2 separate regions of the Homo sapiens genome follow, and region 2 is linked to region 1. A link means that fine-mapping ties the variant in region 1 to the expression of a gene that starts in the linked region. Tissue or cell type: esophagus muscle. Region 1 holds a variant in brackets; the other region holds the start of a gene. All regions are shown on one strand. Distances are from middle to middle. Region 1 holds the start of GSTCD-AS1 (GSTCD antisense RNA 1). Region 2 holds the start of NPNT (nephronectin).

Evidence for each region.
Region 2: it holds the start of NPNT, and the variant in region 1 is fine-mapped to the expression of NPNT in esophagus muscle (GTEx, PIP above 0.99).

The regions. Positions count from the first base shown.
Region 1 is chr4:105,825,516-105,833,854 of GRCh38, reverse strand. GSTCD (glutathione S-transferase C-terminal domain containing) reads right to left here. Exons shown (of 12, transcript NM_001370181.1): 8 at 8,055-8,183. It overlaps GSTCD-AS1 (GSTCD antisense RNA 1), which reads left to right and starts at 6,683. Exons shown (of 4, transcript NR_125927.1): 1 at 6,683-6,742. The variant T/C (reference allele first, on the strand shown) is at 4,636.
Region 2 is chr4:105,891,154-105,899,492 of GRCh38, reverse strand. NPNT (nephronectin) reads right to left here and starts at 4,022. Exons shown (of 12, transcript NM_001033047.3): 1 at 3,770-4,022; 2 at 1,492-1,592. The coding sequence starts at 3,840. RefSeq lists silencers at 2,867-3,161, 3,400-3,609, 3,770-4,339, 5,264-5,313.

The sequences.
Region 1 (8,339 bases):
TGAAATTATGAATTAGAATACTGAGTGGGGCTTCAATAACTCATAAAAATAACTCAAAACGATTTTTAAGTGTTTTTAAAACACATATCCTTAAGTATATCTATACTTACTATAATCTTACTACAAATGAGATAATTATGAAAATTCTTAGGCCAAATAAAGCCTAAATAGGACTCTCAGTGAAAATCAGATGTGGGGATTCTAAAAGATGAATAACCTGTACTGGATTTTGACAAAAAACACCAAAAAAACCCCTCACATCTCCATTTCATTCTGAACAAACATAAATTGTAATGAATTATAATCTTCCCTCACCAACTTCAGGGTAGGGAGGGGCTCTCAGGGTAAAGAGGAGATTTTCTGTAAATTTTAGAAACTTTTTTTTTTTTTTGAGACAGAGTTTTGCTCTTGTTGCCCAGGCTGGAGTGCAATGGCACAACCTCGGCTCACTGCAACCTCCGCCTCCCGGGTTCAAGCAATTCTTCTGCCTCAGCCTCCCGAGTAGCTGGGATTACAGCATGTGCCACCACGCCTGCATACTTTTGTATTTTTAGTAGAGATGGGGTTTCACCATGTTGGTCAGGCTGGTCTCCAACTCCCGACCGCAGGTGATCCGCCCACCTCGGCCTCCCAAAGTGCTGGGATTACAGGCATGAGCCACCGCGCCCAGCGAAAGTAAAATATTATAAACCAGATGCCCCCTTTGAACTGGAAAGCTAAAAACAATACAAACAATACTCTATCAGGAAGAGGAAAGCAAGATCTCTGTTCTTAATCCTCCTCCTGAATTCCTCCTCCTCCTTCTAGACTTACATGAGCCACATAGAAGTCAACAATCTCCATGTTGCTGTCATCCCACCTTTCTTGTTTCACTCTGAAAACAGCCTAGGAAGGCTGGTATCCAGTAAAGGCAGCAACAACTACAGGGAATGGGAAAGTAAATAACCTTGATTTCTCATCTGCTTCTTTTAGTCAGCTTTTCAGAGTAAAAAACAGGCTAATCCTTATTTTCATGACTAGTTGGAGAAAATTTCATAGTAAAAATTATAGACACATCTTCCCCTGGAGGGAAAGCAAACTGACATTTACTGAGTGTTTATGTGCTGGCACTATGCTGTGCTGGGTGATGGCACTCAGAACTATGCTCACAACATCCCTGAAAGACTTTATTATCTCCAATTTAGATGCGAGGAAATGAAGTCTTGGGAAATTAAGAACTTGCCCACAACAAAACAGCTACTGAGGGGCAGGATGCTGACCTCAAAGCCTGACCCCATGTATCAGGCGGCTTCTCTACAAAACCCTCTTCAGGCTCTGAGCAAAAAAGAGTTTAGAAAATTTACTTTTATAAGTCTCTCTTTACTTAGGTTCACATTCCTTACACTACATGCAAAAAAGTGAGTTTATTTCCTTCATTTAAATGAAATAAGTAACTTGAATAACTATACAATAGTTTATAGATAATGTAATAATTGTCTACTAATAATAGGTTTTTGGTCGAAAAGGTTTTACTGCATCACATGCTCCTAGTTTTCACTGTTATCAAATGAAACTCAGAAATAACAGGCAAATAATGAGAGATATAGACCAAAAAAAAACCATTGGATATGGAAATTTATCATACAATAAAGGTGGTATTTCAAACCAGGGAGAAAAGATGGACTTTTTAATAAGTAATGTTTGGTTAACCAGACAGCCATATAAAAAAATAAAAATTAGATCTTTTCCTCTCATCACACATAGGAAATAAATTTTGAATGCATTAGAGATTTAAAATGCAATAAATATGAGTAAATTCCTGCACAACCAAGGGGAATGGGAAGTAATTCCTAACTAAGCTAAAAATCTACGTGCAATAAGGGGTAAGGTTAATAAATCTGACAAAATAAAATTTATTTTTATTTATTTATTTATTTTTGAGATGCAGTTTCGCTCTTGTCACCCAGGGTGGAGTGCAACGGTGTGATCTCGACTCCCTGCAACCTCTGCCTCCAGGGTTCAAGCAATTCTCCTGCCTCAGCCTCCCAAGTAGCTGGGATTACAGCTGCCCACCACCACACCCAGCTAATTTTTGTATTTTCAGTAGAGACTGGCAGAAAACCAAACCATAAGTAAAAAGACAAATGACAAAGTAGGGAAAGGATTGACAACTTACAGCACAAACAAAAGGCTTATATTCTTAATATATAACAAACTTCTAAAAAGAAAGAAAAAGCCCAATAAAGTGAGAGTAAAATGAGCAAGAGATGTGAACACACAAACAAAAACAAGCAAAGAGTTCTTAAACAAAAATTGGTCAATATTGCTCCAAGTAAGAGAAATAATTGTTAATATTTTTTTTAACAAAGAGCCAAGATTTAATCTCAATGTGTCTGACTCCAAACCAAACTTCTTTTTTTAGTTCTCTATGCTCTATTTACTCTTTTCTTTAGATATGGAAGTAAACAGAGAGTCACTGACTGGACTTCTAGACCCAGCCCCCACATTAACTTGCTAGGTCACTCTTCCTTTCTTGTAGCCTCAAATTCTCTACCTGTAAAAGGAGAAGGTTGAACTGAATGATCTCTAAACTTGCCCCAGCCCAATCATTCTCTCCGGTGTTGCTTTTCGAAGAAGGATTCTTAACTCTAGATACCTTAGACAGAGAAGCAGGCTAGTCCCACCTGTGTACTCTTGTTTCCCCTCTTTTAAAACTTTCATACAACAATATTATAGGTAATCAGCTTTAAAATTCAAATAATGCTAAAAGGTATGCAATTATATTAAAAGTCCCTGTTTTGTACACACTGCCACACCACTGAAAGAAAATCTGTGTACCAAAGTCAATGCTGTTCAACTCATTGGTTTACTTCCTGAAAATCTGTTTTTCTATATGATGAACGTATATTGATATCTCTTGATTTGTAAATATTAGACATTATTTATTATCTTTCTACTAGGAGAGAAGAGCTTTTGGCCTTTTTTTTGCACATTTATACACTATCTTCCCTTTTTCCATCTTTTCTCATGGTTTTGTATATACTGTTCACTGCCGAGGGAAGTGTGCTGGATATCAGGGTTTCTGCTTGTTTTTTTAACATCCAAGTTGTTCCCTACCCAAAAGCTCTGTAAAATGCTCTACAATATAAATTTCCACTGTTTGAAAACTTTCAAATAATTGGTCAGCTCCATTTTTTCTTTCCTAGAGACATCTTTCCTGGGCTTTCTGACGTTTTACTAAAATATGGACTCAATGCTTTCTAGGCCTGTTGCCCAGCTCTTGCCCTAAGACTTCCCTCTCCCATGATACTAAAAATTTTTCTCTTGTATTGGATACCACTTAATCCTTTTTCTTATTTACTTTATATTTTAATGAAGCACATTATCTAGTAGCTTGCTGAAAAGGGGTATGTACAATGTACATTTTATTGAGACCTTGACTGTCGAATTTTTCTTTATTTTACTTTTTTTTACTAGACTGATGGATTAGCTAGGTATAGAATTTTAGATTAGAAGTTTTCTGTTAGAATTTTCGAGATATTGTTTCACTGTCACTGAGCCTTCCACACTACTATTAAGAAGTGTGATAGCATTTTGATTCTAAATTATGGTATATCACTATTTTTTTTTCCCTCTGTGGAAACAGTTGGGAAAATCTGTTCACCCTTGGTGTTCTGAAATTTCACAAGGTGCCTTGGCTTAGGCCATTTTGTAAGTTAACTTTATCAAAAGAAATGCATTCTTAATTATTAACACATTTTCCTGTATTTTCTTTGATGTTTTCCTCCCCACGATTTACCAGTTTTCTTTTTCTGGTCCTGCTATTACTGAGGTATTTGATTCCTGGACTAAATCTCTAATTTAAAAAATTTGCTTCTTTCCAGTTTCATTTTTCTTTTTCTTTTTTTTAAGTTCTATTTTTTTCAAGTGGTATCCTATACTTCTTTAAAAAAATACTTTATCTCTTAATTTTTAATTTGTTTTCAATTTTGGCTAACATTTTTATTTTTCAAGACGTCCTTTCTTGTTCTCTGATCGTTCCCTCTTTTTCTATTATATCCTTGTTTCACTAATGTATTATCTTCTTTAGTCTCTCCCTAAGACCCTTGATTATGTTTGTTGCTTTGGTCTTGATATGGTTTGACTATGTCCCTACCCAAATCTCATCTTGAATTGTAGCTCCCATATTTCCCACATGTCATGGAAGGGACCCAGTGGGAGGTAACTGTATGATGGGGGTGGGTCTTTCCCATGCTGTTCTCATGATAGTGAATAAGTCCCATGAAATCTGATCGTTTTATAAAGGGGAGTTTCCCTGCACACACTCTTGCCTGCCACCATGTAAGATGTGACTTTGCTCCTCATTCGCCTTCCTCCATGATTGTGAGGCCTCCCTAGCCATGTGGAACTGTGAATCAATTAAACCTCTTTTCTTTATAAATTACCCAGTCTTGGGTATGTCTTTATTAGCAGTGTGAGAACAGACTAATACAGGTCTCTATCTTCCATTTTGGAAGTTTTCCATGTTTGGTATTCCTTTAGCTGTTCATATTAAAGAGTAAACCACTAAAAAGTTGATTGGAAATTCTGAATGAAAGAGTAAGGCTTTGAAAACTGGTGGGCTTCACCAGTGATTGGGTGATCAAAAAGCCTGGA[T/C]AGGTGCCTTTCTTTTTTTTTTTTTTTTTTTTAATTATAGCTGTAGTATCTGTAGTTCTTTTCTCTGGGGACAGTTCTGCTTCTACAGAGAAGAATCTTTTAATTCTCATGATTGTGGAAATGATCCTGGTTTCTGTGGTTCTGGAATTAGAAGGCAGATGGGTAGGGAAGAGATCTATCCTTCAGTATGCAGATTCTCATTTAGTTCTTATTCTTGGTATGGCACATCACCATTGCCCTTCTCTATGCCTGATATCTCTATACTTGGTGCCTCTCTGGTTCAGTTTCTTCTACAGAATAAACTTCCTGTCTCTCTTAGGAGTTGGGGAGAGGTAGTTTCTTGTTTACACAAGACGAGAGCAGGAATCTTGTCTCTAAATAATATTTTTAATTAAACACGATTTCAGTCCCTCCCTATTCATTTCCTCTGAGGTTTCTGATGCTCTGAATTCCCAAACTTTTCTGGGATTCTGTGGGAGCAAAGTGGTTTGTGTCCTGATAGCCTTCTTGCCACTCTGCCTGGCATGCATTTAAATTTTATCTTCCTTCTCCTCTACTCAATAACTTATCATTTTTCTTCAATCTGCTTTTCACCTTCACACTTCATATTGTGATTCAAGTTACAGAATGTTGAATATAGCTTCATCATAGAGTTTGATTTTTCTGATTCTTGTTCTTGTTATTTGGGGATCTGAACTTTTTTGGGGAGAAGCGGGGTTGAAATACCTCTATCTGCTATTTTCATCTCAGAAGTCCCCTATTTTGCCTTAATGATTTTTAAAAAGCGTGCCTGCAGAATATATAATTTCTCAAGGTCCTTATCTTTTAAAACAAGGATTATATAATTACTCATCAAAAATGTTACTGAATTACAGTCTATAATTACACATGCTTCTTTTAATTGTACACTAACATACATACATAAATAGAAATGAGCTTATAATTAACTAGTCAGCACTTATGAGTGATAAACAATAATTAAAAATTATGTTGTGGGCAAAATAGCAAAAAGCAAATACCAATAACTAGAAAATAAAACTGTTTTGAGATTTTCATATACATGTTGATGAACAGAAAGGATTCGCCAATACTGTTAGAAATCAGTACCTTATCATCTGGTTGAAATGACTGTTTGTTATTGTTGAAATTTTCCAACTAAACATGTTGGTGGCAGGCTGTTTAGCCTTGATACGGTTTTTGTTTTTAATGCAAAATGAGCATTTTTCCATAGTCATGACCCTTTATGTAATACTATTTGCAAATAAATATTTGTAATATTGTTTGAGAGCATGGGTATTAATACACATATTATAAAATTTAATAATTTAAAAAGACTTAGTTGTTTCTAAGTCTTTTAAAATTCTTTCATTAAAATCTTGTTTATACTATTAATTTTTATATCTAAAGAAAAATAGTAAATGAAAAAAATAAAGCATTTACTAAGCAAAGATAAATGCTAACTAAGCCCTTATTGAAATGTCACAAAACCATGAATTTATGCAGTTTTAATGCATTTCCAATATCTGGTTATTCTGCTTTCCTCTCTAGCCACAATATTTTTTAAATTTTTTTGTGTGTATACTGGAACACATTTAACACAGGAGTTAGAACCTCTGATGCATTTAGTCTAATTTACCTAGTGACAATATCTCAATTACTCTCCTAGGCAAATTATTCTCTTCAGAGTGAATCTACTTTTAATTTAACCTTCTAAGCAATTTTAATCCATTTTCTATACACCTTGACAAGGGTAATTATGAAAGGAAAAAAAGTCATTATAGATGTATTACAAAATGTAGAGAAAAATTTCACTTCCAAAGAGATATATACATTTTTAGTTGGCATTAGTAAATTATACACTTGGAAGTTACAAGAATATGCTAGAGTGATTTAGCATCTATAAGTCATGAAGGGCCAAGAGACGGATGGAACAGACATAGGCTGGAAATTCCATGCTTTGTGAGGTAAATAAATGGGTAGCAGTCCACATTTACTTGCTACCATTCTGTCTGGTGTACTGGTAATATCTGGACTGGTTTAATGGCTTGTTTCATGGGAGAAGCGCTAAACTTTACCTCAACATTTATGTAAAGTTAAAGCTGCACAGGTATTTTTTAATTTGAATTTTCTAGATTACATGTCTACATTTTCCTGAATTTCCTTATTAACAGCCAGGCTTATAAAAAGAGAAGTAAACTGTAGATCGTGTCTGCAAAGGAAACGAATAGCATATTTTTTAGGTTGGAAAAAAATTACAATAAACCCCCAAATTTGCAGTAGTCAATATTTAAGAAATAAATTTCACTGGGTAAAAATCAGAAATACTATAAAAGGTCTGAATTAGTTAAGTTGATAAAAGTTCTACCTAGACAACCACATGTTTATATGAACATATGTAATTAGAAAGGATGTCAGTAAGAACCTTCCTGGAAAGTGGTTTGGCAAATGCATCAAAATTCTTAAAGGATGCATAAAATATCCATCATAGTAATAATTGCATTATAACAATGAGAAAAAAAAGTATGATTAAAAAGTAGGTAAAAGATTTTTAACAGTATTCAGTCAATGCAGGATCTATGTAGTATGGTCTTAACAATGTTCACATATGTGTAAAATATGCATTTATATGCGTGCATAAATATAAAAAACTAAAGATTTTTGATAGTATTTATCACTTGATAGTAGGCATATAGGTTATTTCTTCTTTATATTACTATGTATTTTTCTGTATTACTATCAAAATGTATATTCCTATCAAAATCAGAAAAAAAATTATTTAAAGCAAATATAAGAAATAGCAGCAACACTAACATGTTCATAAAACTCAAAGTCTACAAAAAATAATAAAACCCTGGGGTTTAATGATCAGGCAGAATTACATATCTTAGGGATTTTTCATAATATCAAATAATAACAATTTGATCCAAAGGTTTAGAAACATGATCAATATACTTTCTCTCTTGGAACCTGAAAATACATGTAAATATAAAATCTTAGCTAAAAAAAATCACAAGGCAATGCTTGTATTTAGAGATTACTAACAAGTTATTTTCTTTTCTTCTTTTTTCTTTTCCTTCATTGTCTTCTAAAAATGCAGAATAAACCAAGGCAAGTCATGTTCATCAGAATCAATTATTCAATTATTAACCAGTTTTCAGCACTTGCTACTGGGGATTCTGTAGTGAAGAAAATAAAGTTCTGGTCTGATAGAGGAGCCAATGTTATCTCTGTTATGTAATGATGAAGTGCTATGAATATAATAATATTCATTAATATGCTATATTTCATAGATAATATAAGTATACAAAATTATAAATTTGTTTGGCAAAGAACACAAAATTATCTTTTTTATTTACTCTAAGGCATGTAATTTTTCTTATTTAGCTAATTAAAGAAATTGAAATTACTTGATTACTTACTCCAATATTAAACATCCCAGTAAAATATTCCATATTTGCTTGAATGAACCAAATGTTGCTTAAACCCAGTTCATCACTTCTCTTCTTAGCACGAATTAATGATAATTCCTTGTTTTCTATTAATGTAACCTAGATTTTACCCAGAAAACAATAGTATATTTAGTAACATAATTCAGACATTAGGCAAAGCATTATCACTATATTTCATAGCTTTAATAATGTAGAACGTATTATATTGAGCCTCTATTCTGTGGCAGGAAGTATGTCACATAATCTGGTACAGAA
Region 2 (8,339 bases), 66 kb before region 1:
ACACTCACTGGTTAGTCTATTCAATATTGTTTTAAGGGAAGATGATCAAAAAAGAAGAATGGTGCCTGGTGGAATTTAGTCTTCTGTAGTATCAGAAGTATTTGCACAGCTGGAGACTGCAGGTATAGAACTACTCATTTTTCACTCAGGAGGGTTATGTGTAGGTGTGTTGGGCCAACAGAAGGGTCCTTTCTTCACATTTTGGTTATTAGAATCTGTTGGTTCTCAAATTCCATACCAGGTAGGCAAACATTCATTTCCTTTACCTTTCTATTCCCAACCAGAGATTGTGGTCTTTATGTGCAATTAGAGTCAATCTGTGACTGTCACTGTCCCTCTTTCACAAAATTAAGGAAGACATTGCAAGCATCCTCAAAAATTAAAATAGCAGAGGGAACTCCTAACTTTCCTGAACTTAAATTTGCCTGACTCCTCACACTAGCAACCCATCTCTAAGGCAGGCTTCTCCATTGCCAGCTCTAGCCTTCGTAACTGCCCTTCTCTCTTCCTCTAAGCCTCCTCCTCATTAGCAATAAAATATATATCCCAATGTAGAACCCAACTTAGTTCCCATCATCTTACCAGAAGTGCCCCCTACCCCCGCCCCAAGCACTCTAAGGGTGCTCTGGAAAGGTACTTGATCATTTGAAGACTATTTTTTTGCAGTAGGAGTGAGATACAATTTTAAGATCGCGATAAAATGCTGGGGACAAATTTCCTAAATTTCTCAAACTCTTTTGATGTAGCTCTAAATTTTACCATTAAAATATCCATTTGTGGTCACAGAAAAGGTGAAAATCAGCTTTCTGATTTGGTACTTATTACATGAGGTTGGTTACTTATAGAACTTACAAATAATGTTGTTTCAGTGGCTTTGTTTCATTATACTGGGTGGTCCATTTAAAACACTGTCAATACAACCCCAGTCCAAAAAAGGATTTACAAATGGGCCACTTTACACAACAGCTATGGTGAGGATTATATAAGTACTCTAAGGTTCAGAGTTTATTTTGTGTAAATACGGTCTAGACTCATTATCTTATCCCCAGTGTAAATACGGTCTAGACTCATTATCTTATCCCCATCTCCCAGCCTGGAGCAAGCGAGTCAGCGAGAGAGAGAGAGAGAGAGAGAGAGAGAGAGAGAGAGAGAGAGAGAGAGAGACAGAGAGAGAGAGAGACAGAGAGAGAGAGAGAGAGAGAAATAAACCTGGTAAGAAAACAGGAAGGAGATGCAGATTTGGGGGGAAAAATGCTAAAAGAAACATTTAAGGTGGCTCTCTGTGAATGACAAAGCTGGGCCGTAATACAGGTGGCTAAAGCTGAAAAGAAGCAGAATAAGGAGTCTGGACTGTACCTGAAAATCCCCAAGTCAGACCTGCAAGGCCAAGCCTTGCTCAGTAATGAACCCTCTGATATGTGGGGTGAAGCCATGAACAAGGTGGAAAGCCACACCTCCCAGGGAACTGAAGTCCCCAGGCTTGATACTCACGCTGACACTGTCCCCAAGACTGGCGAGCCCAGCCCCAGCAGCAGTCAATCCTCCCACCATAACGACATAGGCCAATCGATGACACTATTTGCCTGGGCCACCTACCAAAAAAAAAGATTCAAAATAAATAAGGACACTTTTGAGAAGAAAGGTAATTTCCTCTGTATTATTACTTCAGAAAAAATGTCAACCACACCCAACAATTTTCTACAAACTCTTTTATGCCTGCAGAAATTTAAGGTTAAAACACCTTCACAGAAATAGTTCTGCTATGATCTAATGTCAAATTTCAGACAGTTAAATACCCCATCCCCCAACACACAAGGGTAGGAGAAAAAACGGGAGGGAAAGATGCTTTCTTAAGTAGAAATAGCACCAGCTAACACCAACAATTCTCAAGGCTGCCACTCACAGGATAGTTTCTGAAGCTTGAAATAAAACAGATTCCTCAAAGACCCACACCTGTTACTGGGGTGAAAGCCAGGTTTGACTGATTCACCATAAACTGAAAAGTATTAAGTAAGACATGTCAAAGCAGAAAAAATTTCTGCCTCATATAAAAGGTGGATGGGGGAAGGAGCAGAAAGGTTTCTCAAAAATCAAGTGTAACAGAGCTCTTTTTGAGACATAACTGTGGCAGAAACAAAAAAAACAAAAAAGTACTAGAAAAAAGTCTAAATAAAACCAAGGAGAGTTTAAAGTGTAGCTGATATCTCAAGTATCCTTGTGGTTTGAAACGTGCTTAGATCAACAATTCATAGTATTTTCCTCTCTAATGTAAATAATGCCTAAAGAAAGTAATTTCAGGATACAGATTTATCCACCTGATTACACGTTGACACATTATTTGCTAAATTGTTTCCTTGTTTAGAGTCACACCTAAATGACTTTTTTCCTCTGGGTATCAACATTTTAATTTGCTGTTTTAGACATCTTTTTAAAGTTACAAAAAGCTATATGCATTCACATCATATGCATATCTTGTGATGGGTTTCTTGTTGCAAATATGTGTGCAAGAAATGCATAACATACCCAAATGTGAGCACAGAATTGCTTTTAAAAATAAAATAAAAAGGTCTACACTCTGGCTGCTATCACGTTTTCTTAAAGTCTCCTTATCTTTTTCAATTCCCCTTTTCTTTTACCTGCCTTTCTACCCCCAGGCCCAAAGTACAAAATAACCCCGAACTTTCTATTTCCTCCGACCAGGTAGTGAACAAGCAGCTGTGCTTTTTCTTGGCGCTCCACTGGTTCCCCTCCGTTCGCCTCCGGGTACAAGAAAGCGAATCAATTGTGGAATTGATTCGTTCCAAGATTAAAGGTAAAACAGGTGCGGCATCTTTCTTTAGGACTAGGCAGGGACCTACACGGAGGGGTGGGGGCAGAGGTCGCTGAAGGAAGGCGACCGGGCGACGGTGTGCGCCAGAGTAAAACCTCTTTTCGCAGCAGCCATCTGCACCCGGGACGAGCCTAGTCTGTAATTGCACAGAGGTGAGGGGGACCGAGCACACCCTCCCGACAGACCCAGTGTCTCTCACACACCGGAGCGGCCCCGGAGCGCGGGAGGACCGGCTGAGTGACAGCGGAGACGCGGCCCGAGGTTGTTGGAACCTGTCACAGCACGCCGCCGTCAGGCTCGCCCGAGTCTGAGGAGCGGCGCAGTGTGTGCGCTCTCACACACACATCCACACACTCATGCTCACATTCACGGAGCGCCCACCCTCCGGTCCTCATTTTGAGTCTCCTTCCCTCAAGAAAACCAAATGGAGAGGCCCACAAATCTCCCCCGTAGCCCAGTCGCTGACTCGCACCCACTCTCTGTGTGAGCGGCCCCGAGAGCCCTGAGCAGAGCCCGGGCCTCCCCCCGGGGGCCTGGAAGCTTCCCCAGTGAAGAGCCGTCTAGTTCAGGCGCGGGAGTTTCCCGGGTAAGGGATGTTTCGCGCGTCACCTCGGCGTAGGTGGCTAAACCGCGCCCTCAGAGCCGAGATCCCAGGCTCCAGCGGCTCCTCTCCCTCAGTCCTAATTCCCGAGCCGGGGCGAGTCGCCCTCGGGGGGCCGCGGATGGGGTCCCAGACTCGCAAGGGCGCGCCCTCTCCGCCTCGGGCGGGCACTCGGAGCCGCTGGACCGCTCTCCTCGCGCCACGCTGTGCGGTGGCCCAACTTCTGGATGGAGGAGACGCCTCTCTGACCACGAAACCCCGCGGGGAAAAGTGACCCAAGACAGTGAGTGTGAAATTAGCGCGGGAAGGAGGAGAGGGCGCCCCGGGGCCCAGCTCACCTCCCGTCGAACTCGGCGGCCGCCTGCAGGTAGAGCGAGGATACCAGCACCAGCGCCAGGAGAAAATCCATGTTGGGCAGCGGGTCCTGGGGCGCAGCGCAGTGGCGCGCGAGGAACAGGTTGGGGTGGTGGGCGCCGATGGGAGGCGCCCCTCTGAGAGTCTCGAGGAACCCCCAGCCCTCGCCGCCCGGGCTACTGCTGCCGCTCCCGGAGGACAGCGGCGAGGCGCGCGGCCGGAGCAGGTCTGCTGCGCGGCGCCCGGAGCCCCCTCCCGCTCCCTTCTAGCTAGGGGAGGCGCTGCAGGGGTAGCTGCACCGCCCGCGGGGAGGGGCGCCAGGGGCGGGCAGGGGGTGCGCGTGCGCCCGACTCGCCGCCCTCCCAGCCCCGGGCGAAGGGTGAGCGCGCTCCGCTCCTCCCGGGGGCCCAGCGGGGCAGGCAACTCGGGGGCAGGGGCGCTGCGGGACGGCAGTGGCTCTTGGGGGTTAGCCAAGCAGGGCGAGCCCCAGCCTGGGAGAAAAGTTGCAAACCCTCTCTGGGAGAGGGAAAGCAGGGTGCCCAGCAGGAAAGGGGAGTGGAGGAGGAAAGGAGCCCGAGGCGTAGGTGCACGCTCCGCAGGTTCCGCCCGAACAGGTGGTGACTGCAGGGGCGAGCAGTAGCTTTCACCGGAGGGCGGAGAAGCCCTAGAGCAGAGAGGTTTATGGGGCTGGAGCTGAGCAGTGTCTGCATTTACTAAAACCACAGCACGACTTGGACAAATTAGCGAAGGCAAACTCTGGGAGTTTGCTTTTCCCGCAGAGTTGGCAAAGGCATATTTTTTATTTTGTAACTAACCAAAAGAAATATTTGGCTCTCCAGTCGGGTTTTGAAGAAGAAATGAGCAGACTGTTTCTGTCTCTATCAGCTCAACTCCCGAGCACATTAGGACAGGACTGCCCCTCTAGGGATGAGTGCCTGCCAGAGAGGAAGGGCTGCTACTGCCTAGTAGTGTTGTGGTGCCTGATCTTGAGGGGATCACTTAGAAACCATTTTAAGTAATCATTGTTCAGTTGTTGCAGAGTAAAAAGTATTGTACTAAATGACTGTGTTCAAATGAAAACATGATTATCCTAAGATGTACATGAGCCCAATCAAGTCACCCCTCTTCCCAACCTTACCTCGAATGACAGCCTTGTGCAGTGATCATCTGTCATCTCCCGTACCTCTCAATGTCCTCATTTCTCTTCCTCCAGTCCATGGCCTCCTTGCCTTTCTTGCATGTTCCAGGCATGCCCCTGCCTTGGGGCCAGTAACTGGCTGTTTTCTCTATCTGGACCCAAATATCTACATGGCTCACACCCTCACTTCCTTCAGTCTTTGCTCAAATGTCACCTCTTCCAGGAGGCCAATCATGATCATCCTATTTAAAACTGCAACTTGCCCTCTGCAAATATCTACATGGCACACGCCCTCACTTCCTTCAGTCTTTGCTCAAATGTCACACCTCTTTGAAGAGGCCAGTCATGACCATCCTATTTAAACCTCTAACTTGCCCTCCTTCTGATGATCCTTGGCCTGTCCTACTTTGTCTTTTCTCCATACCACTCATCTTTTATATTACTATATAACTTGCATATTTTTTGTTTGTATGTTTTCTTTCCGCTAGAATGCAAGCTGTACAAAGGCAGGTATCTTTATCACCTAGAACACTGCCTGGCACATAGTAGGTGCTCATAAATGTTTATTCAATTCATTTGCTACATTACAAACGTTTTCCCCCCATCTTCATTTTCTTTTTGAGGTTTCTACAACTTCAAATTTTTAATGGAAAGTTCTGTGGTAGGGTGATTCACTATCCTGATCATTCAGTGTGTGTAAAAACAGGAATTTTCTTCAAGGAAAGGAAAAATAATGGTTTCAACTTAAATGGCTCTTTGATTTCTAAGTTGTTTTCAGTTAGCAAAACAAGTTTCTATTTTAATCTCAAGAAAGATCCATGCCAATTCAGGCTTGGGACATTATTTTAGGCAAACAGCTTGGTGTCATCCATTTCAGGTCCTTCTAATGAAGTCCAAAAATGTAGGAGTCAAAATATTTTTTCTGCAGAAAATCAAATTTTTGTAAGTGTAGGCATGGTTCCAGGTTCCAGTGGCTACTCCTTAGCTGTTTTTGTTTGTTGGTTGGTTAGTTGGTGCCTGGGTTAGATTTACAAATAAACCTCACTGTGTGCAATGGATGATTAGAGAGAAAGGGGGTAATATACGGCTAAAAAACTGGAGATCTAAGGAAAAGACGAAGAGTGGTGGATGAAAACAGGATAAATAACTGGAGGGAAAAGTGTAATGCCCCATCTACATGCGTCTTTCTTTTGTTTTCCATATATTTGCTTTGGCCTAGAAAACACTCCTTCTTCATTTAAATTTAGCCTCCTCTTCATTCCTCTTCCTTCTTCATTTGGACAATCTCCCCTTACCCTTTGAGTTTAAATTTAGCCGACAGTCCCCCAGGAAGCCTTTTCTGACTTTTTGATTGGCTGAGACTAGTGTTTTATATACTTCTATTACACTTAGCATGCTCTAAGGTAGCTCTTAATGTATTGTGTTGTCATTGCCTCCCTACCACTCTGGGTCCCGTGAGACATTAGTCTAACCAATAGAAGGGCCAGGGCAGTGTCTGTCTTGTCACTATATCCCTTATCCCCAGCACAATGCCTGGCACAAAGCTTAAGTTCAGCAAAGATTAAACAGATGGATTGGATTAAATTGAATTCTGCCTGTGAACTTTAGCTTCTCCCTTCAGTAAAATGTAGCTAATTATATCAGTCTTTGTTAAATCATGGAATAAGGAGAATCTAAAGGATTTCCAAGGTCTAACTGGTTATTATGCTGCAACTATGACCACCAATGATCATTCCGAAAAAGAGGCAGAGTTGCCATGGGAGTGACATTTCATTATCTCAGTCTTAAAAACAAATGAGCAAGAATGAGATCAAAACAGCTAGCTTTTAGCAATAACTACTTTTTCAGGAGGACAAACTTTTGATAGGCTTCTTACCAGGTAATGACACCTTGCAGGTAGTAATCTCAATTTTCTCGTGCACAAATAATTTTCTGTGACCATTCATAATGTGATACAGATAAATAGCAAAACAGAATCAAACAAACACAACTTCAGACCTTTCAAATTTAGAAGCTCATAGTCTTTTTTCTTTTCAGTAAATATTTATTAAGGACCTATAATGTATTGGCCATTTCTAGCTAGGTGCTAGGATTTCAGCTAAGGACAAGACAAAGTCCTGCCCTGAAAGGGTTTACATTCCAGTGGGGGAGCAATACAGAAGGACTATGTAGAGAAAAAAGGAGTAAGGAGAGGATAAAGGGAGGTTACGGTTGTAGAAAATGATGGAGGTGTGATTGTAGATGGAGTGCTTTGGTCACCTTTGGGGAAGTAACATTTGAGCAGAGACTGAATGAAGTGAGGGAGAGAGCCACGTGAGGGTGTGGGATGCAGCCCATGTCCACGCAGACAGTAGAGCGGTGTGTTTTCTCTATCAAGCTCTGAAATGACTTCTCATAGTTGGTGTCATACAAACCATTAAACAAGATATTGCTCCCTCTCTTCCCACACCCCATACACAGTAGTGGCACAGGCATAGGATGACTGCTTTTAAAAGCTCCTATTAAGATAAAGATACACATAGCTTCTTGTTCACAGCAATTTTGACTCACAGCTGAGCAAGAATTATGGAGACTCTCTGTTCTGGCAGTGCAGAAAGTGCCTTGGTTAGACATTTGGGATACTCTGCTTCTCTTAGAGGAACTACCTTGTCCATAATTTTCCATAGCCATATCAGAAGTGACTGTTACAGAAAATGCCTTCCTAGGGGGCTGCATATCATTCACAACCCCTTTTCTGCTGATAAAAATTTGAAGGCTTGAGTATTGCTTTAAGGAGCTAACAGATTCATGGTTTCTGTGGCAACTAGATTTCCTTAAAACCGTAATAGGCTTCTGATCTAATTGCTTCCAGTCAGTTGCTTGTGGAAATAACAGCAAAGTCTTTTCTAGTCCTAGTTCTGAAGGCTGCTCTATTTCTTTGCTTCCTTGTATCCATACTTTACTTTCTCATCTTAATGGAGGGCCACCTTGAGGCTAGCTGAAATAATAGTGTTGCTTAGGAGGGCGATACCTTACTCTGATCCTTGCCACAAGGCTTGGATCCCTGCATTTTTATTAATGTTTGGGTCACAAAAACAGCTGTCTTCTTCAGCCCTGAGAGGCCCTTAATTTCTGGACATTCTCACTTCCTTCCATTTCTGCTTGCAAAGCAGCCAGTTCTTGCCTGAGTTCATCTTTCTTATGATACCTTACTTAAATCAACAAAGAACAGTGAAGTACGCTAACATTCTCATTTTTACAACTATATTCCTTTGACTTGGATATGTGATGTGCCTTCCAAGTTATTATAGATAACAATTTTATGAAATAGCATAAGCATCACCAGCTTTCTAGCCTACACAGAGCAGCTATAGTTATGCCTTGTAAAACCACAGTCCAACTGAATAATCCCTCCAATGACTTCCCATCATAAACAG